4 linked regions of the Homo sapiens genome follow. The protein of the gene in region 1 purifies or fractionates together with the protein of each later gene. This does not show direct contact. Each region holds a gene or a part of one and is shown in the gene's direction. Other genes may lie near its edges.

Region 1 (3,251 bases):
GAGACTGGATGACATCCAACAGACCTTTTAGAATAAAGAGGTAGATTTTATTTATTTTATACTTCCAAATTCTTTTTGATCATCAGTGAAAATCAGTTAACGTTTCTCCACCCTCTTTCATGTGTGTTTAAAAGTATCTTTTTCACTGAATGTACCTTGTGTTCTATATGCTTCTACTCTCATTATCTGCTGATCTGATCATTTAAAAGCTAATCATGCAAGGCCAGTTTTCAGCATAATTTGGACTATTAGCCCAATATATTAGCAGTTTTGGCATTTGATTCTGAAAGTGGTTGCTGGTTCAGATAATGGCTTCTCACCAGTGTTTTTTTGTTTTTTGTTTTCTTTAAAAAAAAAAACCCTCTGGATGAGATTTCTATGAGAAACTACTTGAACATGAAATCAGCCCACCTGGAGTCTTGTAATCATTCAGTTACTTTTACTTCCCAGGCAAAATGGCAATACCTGTGCTTTGGAAGTTTCTGGAGAAGTATCCTTCAGCTGAGGTAGCAAGAACCGCAGACTGGAGAGATGTGTCAGAACTTCTTAAACCTCTTGGTCTCTACGATCTTCGGGCAAAAACCATTGTCAAGTTCTCAGGTATTTTCCTATACACCCAAAGGAAAAACATAATACATTGTGCTTATTTAAGAGAGCCACACCTTAAACTTTAATGTTCTCAGATACTATATTAATGGAGGTTTTTCAGCTCAAGCACCCAAGGCATTTAAAAAAGTCCACTTTCCCCAAACCACAGTCTCCCACTGACCTAAACAATAAATCTTTGCCCAGCACTGGGTCAGGCATGTGGGCAGAATTAGGGGAAGAAGTCAGTGAAGCAGAAAGCCCAGTTCTTGACCTCAAGGACATGACTTCTGTCTTGTTAGCACAGCACAAAAGAGTGGTTAGGAATTGGCAAATGATATGGGTGCTGCAGGAATTCAGAAGGAAGAGTAATCACAACTGGGGTTGCTGGGAAAGAGCCTTTCCTGTCCCTTTCTGCTGTTCTCTCCATCCTGCCCCATCACCACACATTTTGGGAGGGTGTCTTTAGAAGCTGACCTGATAATGTGGGATGTTGTATTCTTCAGATGAATACCTGACAAAGCAGTGGAAGTATCCAATTGAGCTTCATGGGATTGGTAAATATGGCAACGACTCTTACCGAATTTTTTGTGTCAATGAGTGGAAGCAGGTGAGGCTCACTCCCATCCATAATTCAGCACATTTGGTCTCTGAGGCAAAATAAGTCCACCATTATGGTTAAGACTATTTATTGGATACAAATGCTATTACAGTCACAAACAATTGTGTTCCTGGCTGCGGGGAAGCGGGTGGCATGTGGGTTTTGGGGTTTTTGATCAGTAGGCGCTCCCAAGTCCACAAAGACCAGTCCAGCGGCGTGGCCTCTGACTCATCTCCAGTGGTTTGTCACCTCTGGCCCTGTTCCTGTCATTCCCTATTTGTGTGCTATCTCTAAGCCTGACGTGGTTTTCCTCCTGTCAAAAGTACACCACTACAGGAAAGCAGGAAGGTTTGGGCCTGCAATGTATGCATATTGGGTTTCTCTTAGTGGTCTCAGACTACGTTTGTGGTGACTGGGTCCTGCTTCAGCCCTGTTGAATATGCCCAGCCTGTGGCATGCTGGTGGTCATCCTGGCAGCTGGTGGGTGGCCTGGTATGCTGCCCACTCAGCTTGAGACTCACCCTCATGCATTCAGCCAGTAGGTCTGGCCAAGCCTGAACTGAAGGACCATGGTCCTATCCCAGCTTCATCAGAGCAATCCATTGTGACCTGAGAATCCATTTAACCTCTCGGTCTAGAACCTCCTTCTGGAAAGTGAGGTATTAATACTTGACTCATGTTATCGCCACCCCACATTCTAAGTCATGGTTGAGTAGTAATTTGGACAGTACCTTGTAAATTGTGTGAGATTACCTTAATATAAGGTATAACTTAAAATATTCATGAATCCCAGGAGGTTAAAGGTTATAACTTTTAGGTATGGTATCGTAATGTACTGTCCCCCAGCAAACATTTAAAAAGCCAATTTTAAAAAATGTATTTCTGACTAAGTTACATTAAGGTCTCTGCCTCTGTATCTTATGTTTCTTCCAGGTGCACCCTGAAGACCACAAATTAAATAAATATCATGACTGGCTTTGGGAAAATCATGAAAAATTAAGTCTATCTTAAACTCTGCAGCTTTCAAGCTCATCTGTTATGCATAGCTTTGCACTTCAAAAAAGCTTAATTAAGTACAACCAACCACCTTTCCAGCCATAGAGATTTTAATTAGCCCAACTAGAAGCCTAGTGTGTGTGCTTTCTTAATGTGTGTGCCAATGGTGGATCTTTGCTACTGAATGTGTTTGAACATGTTTTGAGATTTTTTTAAAATAAATTATTATTTGACAACAATCCAAAAAAAATACGGCTTTTCCAATGATGAAATATAATCAGAAGATGAAAAATAGTTCTAAACTATCAATAATACAAAGCAAATTTCTATCAGCCTTGCTAAAGCTAGGGGCCCACTAAATATTTTTATCGGCTAGGCGTGGTGGTGCATGCCTGTAATCTCGGAAGGCTGAGGCAGGAGGATCATTTGAGCTCATGAGGGCCCAGGAGGTCAAGGCTTCAGTGAGCCATGATCATGCCACTGCACTCCAGTCTGGATGACAGAGAGAGACCCTGTCTCAAAAAATATATATTTAAAAAATAAAAATAAAAGCTGACCCCAAAGACAAATAAGATTCCTCTGGCATTGTGTATTGTTGACAGCTCCACACTAGCTCTTAGGAATTGTAGATTCCACCCCAGTATCCATTTGATAACCTAATGTGAATATGGGCCTGCTGCTCCATTTCAGCTCACTCACTCTTTTACCTTGGTCCCTTTGTGAAAACTCATTTCTCATCTTCCATTTGGAGTTTATACCATTTGGCCAGGCACAGTGGCTTACACCTGTAATCCTAGCACTTTGGGAGGCTGAGGCAGGAGGATTGCTTGAGCCCAGGAGTTCAAAACCAGACTGGGCAACATAATGAGACCCCGTCTCTACAAAAAATTTTAAAAATTAATTGGGCATGGTGACATACACTTGTGGTCCCAGCTACTCAGAAGGCTGAGGTGGGAGAATCCCTTGAGCCCAGGAGATTGAGGCTGCAGTGAGCTATGATCACACCACTGCACTTCAGCCTGGATGACACAGCAAGACCCTGTCTTAAAAAAAATAAGTCTTAATGCCA
Region 2 (3,500 bases), on another chromosome or scaffold:
TCTTCTGATTTTTGGTTCTTATGACAGTGCTGTTTTGCGTGGGCAGTTGTTCAGTTTGGTGTTACTGTGGGGGATGAGGAGGGTGGTCAATGGAGGCTTCTATTCTGCCTCTTGCTCTGCCTCCTGAGCTCCAGGCCTGTGTTTGGACTTTACCTTACTCTCAGAGCAGGTTTTGTAAAAAAGTAAAACCTGTTGGGGTTTTGCTGACTCAGAGCATGTGTGAGGAAGGAGGAGGGATAGAGGAAAGATTCTGAGCAGGAGGCGGAGCGCGGTGGCTCACGCCTATAATCCCAGCACTTTGGGAGGCCAAGGCAGGTGGATCACCTGAGGTCAGGAGTTCATAGACCAGCCTGGCCAACATGGTGAAACCCTGTCTCTACAAAAATTAGCCAAGTGTGGTGGCACCTGCCTGTGGTCCCAGCTACTCCGGAGGCTGGGGTGGGAGAATCACTTGAGCCCAGGAGTTTGAGGCTGAAGTGAGCCACGGTTGTGCCACTGCACTCCAACCTGGGTGACAGAGTGAGACCCTGTATCAAAAAAAAAAAAAAAAAAAAAATTCTGAGCCAGGAAACATCCCCTTTGCTAATGATGCCTGTTCCTTTCCAGTGTATTTCCGCATTGTCACCATGGATAGCAACTTCGTTCCAGTGAATGACAAGGTGAGTTGGGAGGAGGAGAAGGAGTGGCGCAGGGAGAACAGGGAAAAGGATGAGAGATTCTCTAGGGTGGAAGTCCTCTCAGCCTGGGCGTGGCAAGGCGAGGCCCTCTGGGTTGGAGACTGCTGTGTGCGTGGGACTGGAAGTGCTGGGCGAGCTTCAGGGAGCTAGCCTAAATCAGCCTAGGAACAAGCAGAGGTAACCAGTTCTCAGCTTCAGTATCTACACATTCATCAGGTTCTTGAGAGATGGTTATGCTCCTTGTCATTTTATTTTATTTATTTGTTTATTTAGAGACAGAGTCTCGCTCTGTGGCCCAGGCTGGAGTGCAATGGCGTGACCTCAGCTCACTACAACCTCTGCCTCCTGGGTTTAAGCAATTCTCCTGCCTCGGCCTCCCAAATAGTTGGAATTACAGGCGCGCACCATCACGCCTGGCTAATTTTTGTATTTTTAGTAAAAACAGGGTTACATCATGTTGGCCAAGCTGGTCTCAAACTCCTGACCTCAAGTGTTCCACCCACCTCGGCCTCCCAAAGTGCTGGGATTACAGACAAGAGCCACCATGCTCAGCCCCCTTTCATTTTAAGAGTTTTCGCAAACTTCAAGACCTTTTCTTCAGGACTGACAAAAGCATTTTTTTTTTTAAGGCAGAAAGGAGAATGTCCGCTTCCACTCTGTTTCTATGAGGCAAAATAATTTACAAAGTAGGTAATTCTCTTAGGGCAACATTAAATAAATACATGCCAAAGCTTAAAATGTAGCAACATTTTGCGAATATTTGATTTTTCCTTGGACTCCCCATCCCTAGAATCATAAGCCTTACCACAGGTTTGATTTCAAGTTGGAGCATGTGTCATTTCTACATGCTTCTGAGACACTTACCTCCCGGACACCCCTGCTTTCTTCCTCTTCCGTCTGTCCCAGCCTGTGTATTCAAATGAAACTTTTAGAGATAAACATAGAGAAAGCATGATTTCCATTTTCCATCTCCGTGTTCTCAGAGCTGCTGTTTCCTTTCCCTATGTGCAGGGGAGTTATTAGCTTGTTATGATTGGTAATGCCCTACCCGCTACTCTCTTTCCCAATATAGATTTCCTTTTACTTCCTCCTTCCCATCACCTATGGCTTTTCTTTGGTAGGTATAACGTTGAGTACTTCTTACTTTTTTTTTTTTTTTTTAACATTTTAAGACAAGGTCTCATTCTGTCACCTAGGCTGGAGTGCAGTGGCAGTCATGGCTCACTGCAGCTTTGACCCTGCCCCGGGCTCAAGTAATCTTCCCATCTCAGTCTCCCCAGTAGCTGGGACCACAGGTGTGCACTACCACACCTGGCTAATTATTTTATTTTTTTGTAGAGTTGTGGGGGGCGGGGGTCTCACCTTGTTGCGCAGGCCGGTCTTGAGCTCCTGGCCTCTCTCGCTTTGGTCTCCCAAAGTGTTGGGATTATAGGCCTGAGCCACTGCACCCGGCCTGAGTGCTTACTTCTTAACAGACTGTTTTCTCTAGAGCTGCAACAAGGAAGTGCTGGGTTCAAAGCGTGGCCCGCAGCAGCACTATTTTAGACTCACTTACCCTCAGGGTTGATCTCATTAACTACCCCTGTTACGATTCAAATGAAGCGGGATTACTTCCAGGTGTTCTGTTTTCTGCAGTTAGGCTCTTTCTCTTGTGAAATTACTCCTTCCTCCCCACTCTATTTCTCCAGCCAAACTCTCCCTCCAAATTCAGTTGAAACACTGAGATTAACAAAAGGAATTTTACCAAGAAAGCTAGGATAAAAATTGTGTTTATGTAACCACCCAATGGGTTCACCTTGCCTGCTGCTTAGACAGGGTTGATTTATCGAGACAGGGGAATTGCAATGAAGAAAGAGTAACTCACCCAGAGCCGGCTGTGTGGGAGACTGGAGTTTTACTGTTACTCAAATCAGTCTCCCTGAGCATTTGGAAATCGAGTTTTTTTTTGTTTTTGTTTTTGTTTTTTTTTGAGACGGAGTTTCATTCTTGTTGCCCAGGCTGGAGTGCAATGGCGCGATCTCGGCTCGCCGCAACCTCTGCCTCCCAGGTTCAAGTGATTCTCCTGCCTCAGCCTCCCAAGTAGCTGGGATTACAGGCATGCGCCAACACGCCCGGCTAATTTTGGTACTTTTAGTAGAGACGGGGTTTCTTCATGTTGGTCAGGCTGTTCTTGAACTCCCGACCTCAAGTGATCCGCCCGCCTCGGCCTCCCAAAGTGCTGGGATTACAGGCGTGAGCCACCGCGCCTGGCCAGGAAATCGAGTTTTTAAAGATAATTTGGCAGGTAGGGGCTTGGGAAGTGGGGAGTGCTGATTGGTCAGGTTGGAGATGGAGTCATAGATGGTCAAAGTGAGGTTTTCTTGCTGTTTTCCTCCTCCTGGGTGGGATGGCAGAACTGGTTGAGCCAGATTACTGGTCTGGGTGGTGTCAGCTGATCCACTGAATGCAGGGTCTGCAGAACATCTCAGGCGCTGATCTTGGGTTTTACAACAGTGATGTTCTCCCCAGGAGCAATTTGAAGAGGTTCAGACTCTTGGAGTCAGAGGCTGCATGACCCCTAAAGTGTAATTTCTAATCTTGTAGCTAATTTGTTAGTCCTGCAAAGGCAGACTGGTCCCCGGGCAAGAAGGGGGTCTTTTTGGGAAAGGGCTGTTATCAATTTTGTTTCAGAGTCAAACCATGAACTGAATTCCTTCCCAAAGTTAGTCTGGCTTACACCCAGGAATCCACAAGGACAGCTTACAAGTTAGAAGCAAGATGGAGTCGGTTAGGTCTGACATCTTTCACTTTCATAGTTTCCTCAGTTATAATTTTGCAAAGGCG
Region 3 (3,500 bases), 2.9 Mb from region 1:
ATTAATTACAATGATTGATTACATTCATAGATTTACCAATGTTGAACAATCTTTATATTTCTCAAATCAAACCCATTTCCTTTTATGTGACATTGAATTACTTCCTGTTATTTTACTTACACCTTTTGCATTGATATTTACAAGTGGCATTGAACTAATAGTTTTATTTTGGGGGCAATCTTTGTCAGTATCAGTGTTACACTTAATTCATAAGAAGTTTTTGAAAGTTTTCTTTCATCTTCTATGCTCCAGAACAGTTAAAATAGCATTAGAATAATTTACTCTTGAAAAGCTTGGTAGAATTCCTCTATGACAGTCATCTGGCCCTGGAGCTTTTATGTTTGAGAAGATGGCAGTAGGAGCTCTTTAACAATAATTTCTATTATTTTATGAAAATCTATTGAGGTTAATATTGGCAAATTGTAGTTCCCTAGAAATTTCATCCATCAGACAGACAATATCTTCCAAAAAGGCTTCCCAGAAATGGCTGCCAATTTCAGCAGTCAGATAGCTGAACATTGGGTCTCATTATTGCGACATTCCAAGAAACATACAGAACCTAGCGAAAGATTTGCATTCCATCCAAGTTTTATATGTATAGCCAAAGACCAAGCCCTATTTGTGTTGCATGTTCCAGGATGCTTTGGCCTGAAATATGCTTTCCTTTCTCACCTGGGACATATTTACACATGAGTTATACTTTACCCACTTCTAAAAAGAATCTGAGGCAGTACACTTCAATCCAATTCCAGCACGAACCAGGAACATGTGGCAGTCAGCCAGCATCTATCTACATTTTAAATGTAATAATAAGGAATAATCAATTCGTGTTTGTAAAATTCTTTGGAATGACATTATCGTAACCAATATTACTGGTGCATTTTTCTGTGAAGAACAGCGGTTCTCAACAGGGGCGCATTTGCCTCACAAGGAACATTTGGCAATGTCGGGAGATATTCTGGGTTATACAAGTGGGAGATTAGGAATGCTACTGGCATCTAGTGGGCAGAGGCCAGGATACTGTGAAACATCCTATAATGCACAGGAGAGCTCCCTACAACAAACAATTGTCTGGCCCAAAATATCAATAATGCTGAAGCTGAGAAACCTGTGTAGGAATTTTTCTTTCTCTGTTTGTGTTTCAGGATTTTATAGCTACCTTGGGAAAACTTTCAGGATTACATGGCCAGGACCTTTTTGGAATTTGGAGTAAAGTCTACGACCCTTTATATTGTGAGGTAAAAGAAAAAAAAATCACAGGTTAACTTGCAATCTGATTTTATGATTTATGCTTATTTTGAAATAGATGAATATCTTTTCTTTCACTTCTTTATGAATGTATTACTTATACTTCTTTTGACATTGAAACGTAATTCACAACTTCCTTATATTAACTTGAAAATGCTGACTTCTCTTTTCTCTCTATTATTATTTATGTTTTCACCCTTTAGAAAATTACAAGCAAAATTGCTTTTCTTCTATGAGTTTCCACTTTAGTTTTTTCCCCCCTTGGATTCAGTAGGAGCTTATTTATTTTGCAGCCACTCAAAAATGCTGGGTTCCTGTCCTTGGTCTTAATGAAAAAACAATGTTGTTATAAAGAAAGAGGGGAAAATTACCTGATTTCCGAATGTAGAAATAAACAAGCAAAATATAAGCCAGGCTATTTATATTTGCTTAACAAGAAAGAACTTCTTTCTTGCTTTGCGATGCATTTGAAATACCGTTTGTGGCCAGATAAATTACGATTGCTTTTCAAGGTTACATGGTGTTTCTCACTCACCATGCTCCACCTTCTGGCCAAAAGGAGTACTCTCTGTTCCTGTTTTCCCAACTAGCTCACTAAATATGGGGCAAGATTCTGACCACCCACCTAATTCATATTGACTTCTAACTTTGAGGTCATCGTGAGAGTCTGGGGGGCAGCAATTACTTCCGTAGTTCTATCTTAATAACAGATGACACAGTTTGCCTCCATCCATCCTAAAGTTAATTGACCCAATCACATGCTACTTTCCCAGTATTTTCACTTAATCATCAGCAACTATTTCAGTGAAAATTCATTAGCATTGTAAAAGACTCTTCAGTGAAAACAAGAGCCCCCATTTTTGTTCCAGTCATAATTTTTTTTTCTTCCTTACTACAGTTTGATCTGAGCTATTCCAAAATGTGGTCATGTCATGTGATATTTTTTCCAAATCTCTCTCACTTATTTCCTCTGTAGGTCACTCCACTTTGGTCTCCTCTTTCACGAACTCACTTTCTCTCACTCTTAATCCTGCCTTTGAAACTGGGGGACTCCTAATCAACTCTTCCTAACGGGTAATAAATATTGGCACAAGGTCTCACCTGCCCTGCTTGTACTTAACCATTCATTTAACGCATATTTACCAAGTATCCACTGTGTGCAAGGTGCAGGCTTTCCTCAAGAGTCAGTGAACTACAGCCAGGTATGGTGGCTCCTGCCTGTAATCCCAGCACTTCTGGGAGGCTGAGATGGGAGGATCATTTGAGGCTAGAAGTTCAGGATGAGCCTGGGCAGCATAATGAGGCCCTACCTCTACAAAACACTTTTAAAAATTAGCCACGTGTGGCCAGGTGTAGTGGCTCATGCCTATAATCCCAGCACTTTGGGCTAAGGTGGGCGGATTGCCTGAGCTCAGGAGTTCGAGACCAGCCTGGCCAACATGGCGAAATTTCATCTCTACTAAAAATACAAAAATTAGGCGGGTGTGGTGGCGCATGCCTGTAATCCCAGCTACTCGGGAGGCTGAGGCAAGAGAATCGCTTGAACCCAGGAAGTGGAGGTTGCAGTGAGCTGAAATCGTGCCACTGCACTCCAGGCTGGATGACAGAGCAAGATTCTGTCTCAAAAAAAAAAAAAAAAAAAAGTGCCACGTGTGGTGGCATGCACCTATAGTCCCAACTACTCAGGAGGCTGAGGTAGGAGGATTGCTTGAGTCCTGGAGTTTGAGGTTACAGTGAGCTGTGATGGCCACTGCATTCCAGCCTTGGTGACAGAGCAAGACAATGTCTCTGAAAAAAAAAAAAGAAAAAAAAAGTCAGCAAACTAGACCTTGATGGGGGTAGGGGAGAATATATTACTGAAGGCTCCAGAAATATATTGCCTTTCCTAACTGGCCTCTCAGGCAGCCCATTCAGCTTTTAAGGAAATATCATTTAACTCTGTCAGGTTCATAGAAAGATTTCTAACCCTTTCATAAAGGAATGAGGTATTATTTCCCTACTGCACCCTTACTCTGCAAAATATGAGCCACCCACTGATCCAGAGTTAAACCAAAAGCTATGGACTGGGTAGGAATGGGTAAATTCATTTATATAAGCTTTTCTTCTGAAAGTCAATACCACTACTTATCACAATATGAAGTTCTTTTAGAAAGAAATGGCAGGACAAGAAAGTCTGGCCCTACTAGTTCTTGTGAGGTGAAAAAGGATAAGTCAACAAAGAGGACAGTCATATAAATACACATACATTTTTC
Region 4 (3,500 bases), on another chromosome or scaffold:
GTGTGGGGAGAGGCAGGCGGCGAGGAGACCACTATTGCAGAAGCCAGAGAAAGGCCTGAATTAGGAGGGTGGAAGGGAGAGAAATTCTGGAGGACTTGTGGGATTTGGCAGTTGAATGCTAAGTATGAAAGAAGGAGGGAAAAAAAAAAGTTGAAGGCAGCTTTAAGATTTTATGCCTAGGCTAGGTGTGGTGGCTTACACCTGTAATCCCAGCACTTTGGGAGGCTGAGGCGGGTGGATCACCTGAGGTCAAGAGTTTGAGACCAGCCTGAACACTGCAGTGAGCCATGATCACCCTGCTGCACTCTAGCATGGGTGACAGAGTGAGACTCAATCTCAAAAAGCAAACAAAAACAAAAAACAAGCACAAGACCAGTGATAGAGTTTCCTGTGGAAGGGAGGAAGACACTTCTTTCTCAGATAAAACAGTGAAAAAGAGCAAGATGATTAAAAAAAAAAGTATAATCAAGTGGCCCAGCAGTTCCTAGGCAGCAATGACAACTGCAGTTCCTTGGTCACTAACACACTTCCATGGATTCAGCCAGTAAGGAGACAGTGAACCCAGATGGATTTGGACAGTTACTGCTTAATGCACAGCAGGCAGCATTAGCTTCATGTTCACATTGATTCTCCTTGTCCCCCAAGTTCAATGGGGTGATGTAGAGGTAGGCTGAGGTGCATACAATGCACTCAGTGGGTCTTTGTTATAGCTGAGGGGCAGTGAGCTTAGGAACCCTCCGGTATTATGAGGGAGCTGCTAGTGATCCTGCTCAATCTTTGTCCTGAAGGAATATGTTACCTTATATTGCTTAGGAAACAAATCTGCCCCCTGACCTGGAGGGATAAACTCTAGCTTCCAAGGCTGTCGGTTATGCAAAAGTCCTTGAACAAAGATATTAATGCCCTTTGCTCAGAAGGCATTCAGAAATGCCAGATTGTGGGCATCCGACCCGCAGACACTGACCTAGTGATGGATGAGAGACGTACACTGACACAGACATTTTGCTTGTCAGTGTGGCTAAAGGGGTTCTGCTCCTGAATCTGCAGTGTAGGCCATGATAAGCCGGTGAAGTTCACATTTATTTAGTACAGATTAAATGACAAGGGTCATGAGTAAACACCACTAGAAGGTAATTAACATTGCCACCCCTCCCCACCCCCCCCAGGGGAGAGCAGTCATGCACCCACAGATAATCAAAGGTTGCTCTTAGGACCACATGAGTAAACAAGCTATTTAGGTAAACTCTCCCACATTCCCTTGTTATTTGCTCTTTTGCTATCAACTCGAGGTAAAGAGGATTCGGCTGCTTTCAGCCAAATCTTTTACTGAAGCTATGCACCACCACCCCCCAGCCTTCTAAGAAGGTTTGTGACTATTTCCTATAACTATCTTTACAATTTTTCCTCTGCAGTTTTTCCCACCACCCTGACTGAACTCCCACACCAGATCCCTGGAGAATTATCTACCAACACAGACATTTATGTTTATATAAATTATATGTACATGTATATGTACGCATATTTATGAATAAAGAAATGTTTAGGTGTAGAAGAGAAGTCAAGGAAGATCACTTGGGATATATCCCTGCTCTCGTGTTCTGAAACACTGGATTGAGTCAATATGATGGGATCTGTGTCTTACCTGTCATTTTCCCTCAGAGACTAGTACAGTGCCTTGAGCTTAGTAGGTGTTCAGTGAATGCTTGTTCAATGATGAATGATTGAAGATCTTTAAAAGTTCTCCTCCTTCTTGAAGAGAGAATGTCAACTCCCTAGATGATTATTAGAAAGTTTATTCAGCCTAAATGGTTGTGTGTTGTCTGCAGTTCTATTTGTAATGTCTGTTTTACATATTGAAATGTACTATTTTAACATAGGCAGCCTACTTTAACAATAAAGTATTTTTTTTTAAAAGGGTAAGTAGTTAGGCCGGGTGCGGTGGCTCATGCCTGTAATCCCAGCACTTTGGGAGGCCAAGGCGGGTGGTTCACCCGAGGTCAGGAGTTTGAGACCAGCCTGGCTAACATGGAGAAACCCTGTCTCTACTAAAAATACAAAAATTAGCTGGGCATGGTGGCATATGACTGTAATCCCAGCTACTCGGGAGGCTGAGGCAGGAGAATTGCTTGAACCTGGCAGGCGGAGGTTGCAGTGAGCCGAGATCATGCCACTGCACTCCAGCCTGGGCGACAGAGTGAGATTGTGTCTCAAAAAAAAAAAGAATAAGTAACTAGATAGAAGAAGAAGGGTTTTGAGAAACATGATGGGTTTTGGAGGAATGTACAAAGTTAGATTTGGAAAATTCTTCTTATGAAATACACATATAAATTGTATCATTTTAATATGGTCTTCTTAACGGTTAACTGTCTATGTTTCCAGATGATGTCCTAAAATAGTCGTTCCTTGCAGCTGGTACTGAAGAGTGTATGAAAGAAAAACTCTGTAACAGATGTGTCTGGTCCTGTATGAATCAATATCTGTAGCAATGGCTTTTATATATGTGGAATCAGAAGGCTCAGGAAACAATTTTAATGTTCTGTTAGGTTCTTTAAAATGGGGATACATTCAGGTCTCAGTTGTTGAGGCTGTTGAGCAGCAATCCAGGTATGAAAATGGGAAAGATTTGACTGCTTCTCTCATGCAGGGGAATAAAGCAAAGGCACGTGCAGAGGGAAGTAGGGGTAGAGAGAGGCAAGTTAGCTTCAGAGAGATTTATTTGCACCCAGTTCTGTTCTACTCAGCCTGACGTTTTATCATCTTTTTGAAAAGTGGCATGAAGTGGTGTGGAACACATCAGAGGGTGAAGCCAAGCAAATCTGAAAGAGAGCAGAGGATTTCATATGATATCCTATGTGTGCTTTCCCCTTCCTTCTTAGGAGCTGGAAGAGGCAGAATTGATGTCCACTCAATTTCAGTTCATCTTGCCACCTTCATATTATACTGATACTAATATATGTGAAATAAGAAGAGAACATTCCAGGCAGTTACTATGTCACATGCAGTCATCAGTTTCTCTGCAACCCTACAACCACAGGGGATTCCATTGCTTGCTTTGACTTGGACTTCTCATAAAATGACTTTCGTTGGATTTAGTGTACAATTTTTAAGTTAATTACTGATTTTGTATATATGTGGTATTGTATCTTTGAAAGCTCATATGAGTTTATTAGGGATTTTCAGAATTATCAACTAAATCTGGCTAGAAAAAAAATTATCTGATGAAAAACCTTTCTGGTAACTTAATAAAAATGGGGTGATAGCAAGTGTAAATGCCAGTTAAATCCTGGGTGCTGGTGTGTGTGAATACATGAATACATGTGTATGGTTGAAGGAAATAATTTGTAAATCATAGCTTTCCTAGTATTACGTGTCCCTTCATAAAATAGCTCAGAGTTTTCTCATGAAAAATAAATTGACATTTGAGACAAAAGTTTGAACTTGCTGGTGTTCCATTCAAATTGAATAATGTACAGCTAATGATTATTTTTGGATGCCTTCCA

Evidence for each region.
Region 2: the proteins of MBD4 (region 1) and A2ML1 purify together in Homo sapiens (affinity purification with mass spectrometry; one large-scale study listed by BioGRID and IntAct). This does not show direct contact.
Region 3: the proteins of MBD4 (region 1) and ACP3 purify together in Homo sapiens (affinity purification with mass spectrometry; one large-scale study listed by BioGRID and IntAct). This does not show direct contact.
Region 4: the proteins of MBD4 (region 1) and RWDD3 purify together in Homo sapiens (affinity purification with mass spectrometry, with the first as the bait; one large-scale study listed by BioGRID). This does not show direct contact.

Annotation. Positions count from the first base shown.
Region 1 is NC_000003.12:129,430,447-129,433,697, reverse strand, and holds the end of MBD4 (methyl-CpG-binding domain protein 4), read left to right. Parts: intron 1-450; coding exon 451-600; intron 601-1,091; coding exon 1,092-1,195; coding exon of another isoform or gene 1,196-1,249; exon of another isoform or gene 1,250-1,522; intron 1,523-2,119; coding exon 2,120-2,197; 3' UTR 2,198-2,751; downstream 2,752-3,251. UniProt on the Homo sapiens protein: Mismatch-specific DNA N-glycosylase involved in DNA repair. Has thymine glycosylase activity and is specific for G:T mismatches within methylated and unmethylated CpG sites. Can also remove uracil or 5-fluorouracil in G:U mismatches. Has no lyase activity.
Region 2 is NC_000012.12:8,829,121-8,832,620, forward strand, and holds part of A2ML1 (alpha-2-macroglobulin-like protein 1 isoform 1 precursor), read left to right. Parts: intron 1-606; coding exon 607-659; intron 660-1,541; exon of another isoform or gene 1,542-2,186; intron 2,187-3,500. UniProt on the Homo sapiens protein: Is able to inhibit all four classes of proteinases by a unique 'trapping' mechanism. This protein has a peptide stretch, called the 'bait region' which contains specific cleavage sites for different proteinases.
Region 3 is NC_000003.12:132,341,407-132,344,906, forward strand, and holds part of ACP3 (prostatic acid phosphatase isoform PAP precursor), read left to right. Parts: intron 1-1,145; coding exon 1,146-1,238; intron 1,239-3,500. UniProt on the Homo sapiens protein: A non-specific tyrosine phosphatase that dephosphorylates a diverse number of substrates under acidic conditions (pH 4-6) including alkyl, aryl, and acyl orthophosphate monoesters and phosphorylated proteins.
Region 4 is NC_000001.11:95,240,710-95,244,209, forward strand, and holds part of RWDD3 (RWD domain-containing protein 3), read left to right. Parts: intron 1-3,500. UniProt on the Homo sapiens protein: Enhancer of SUMO conjugation.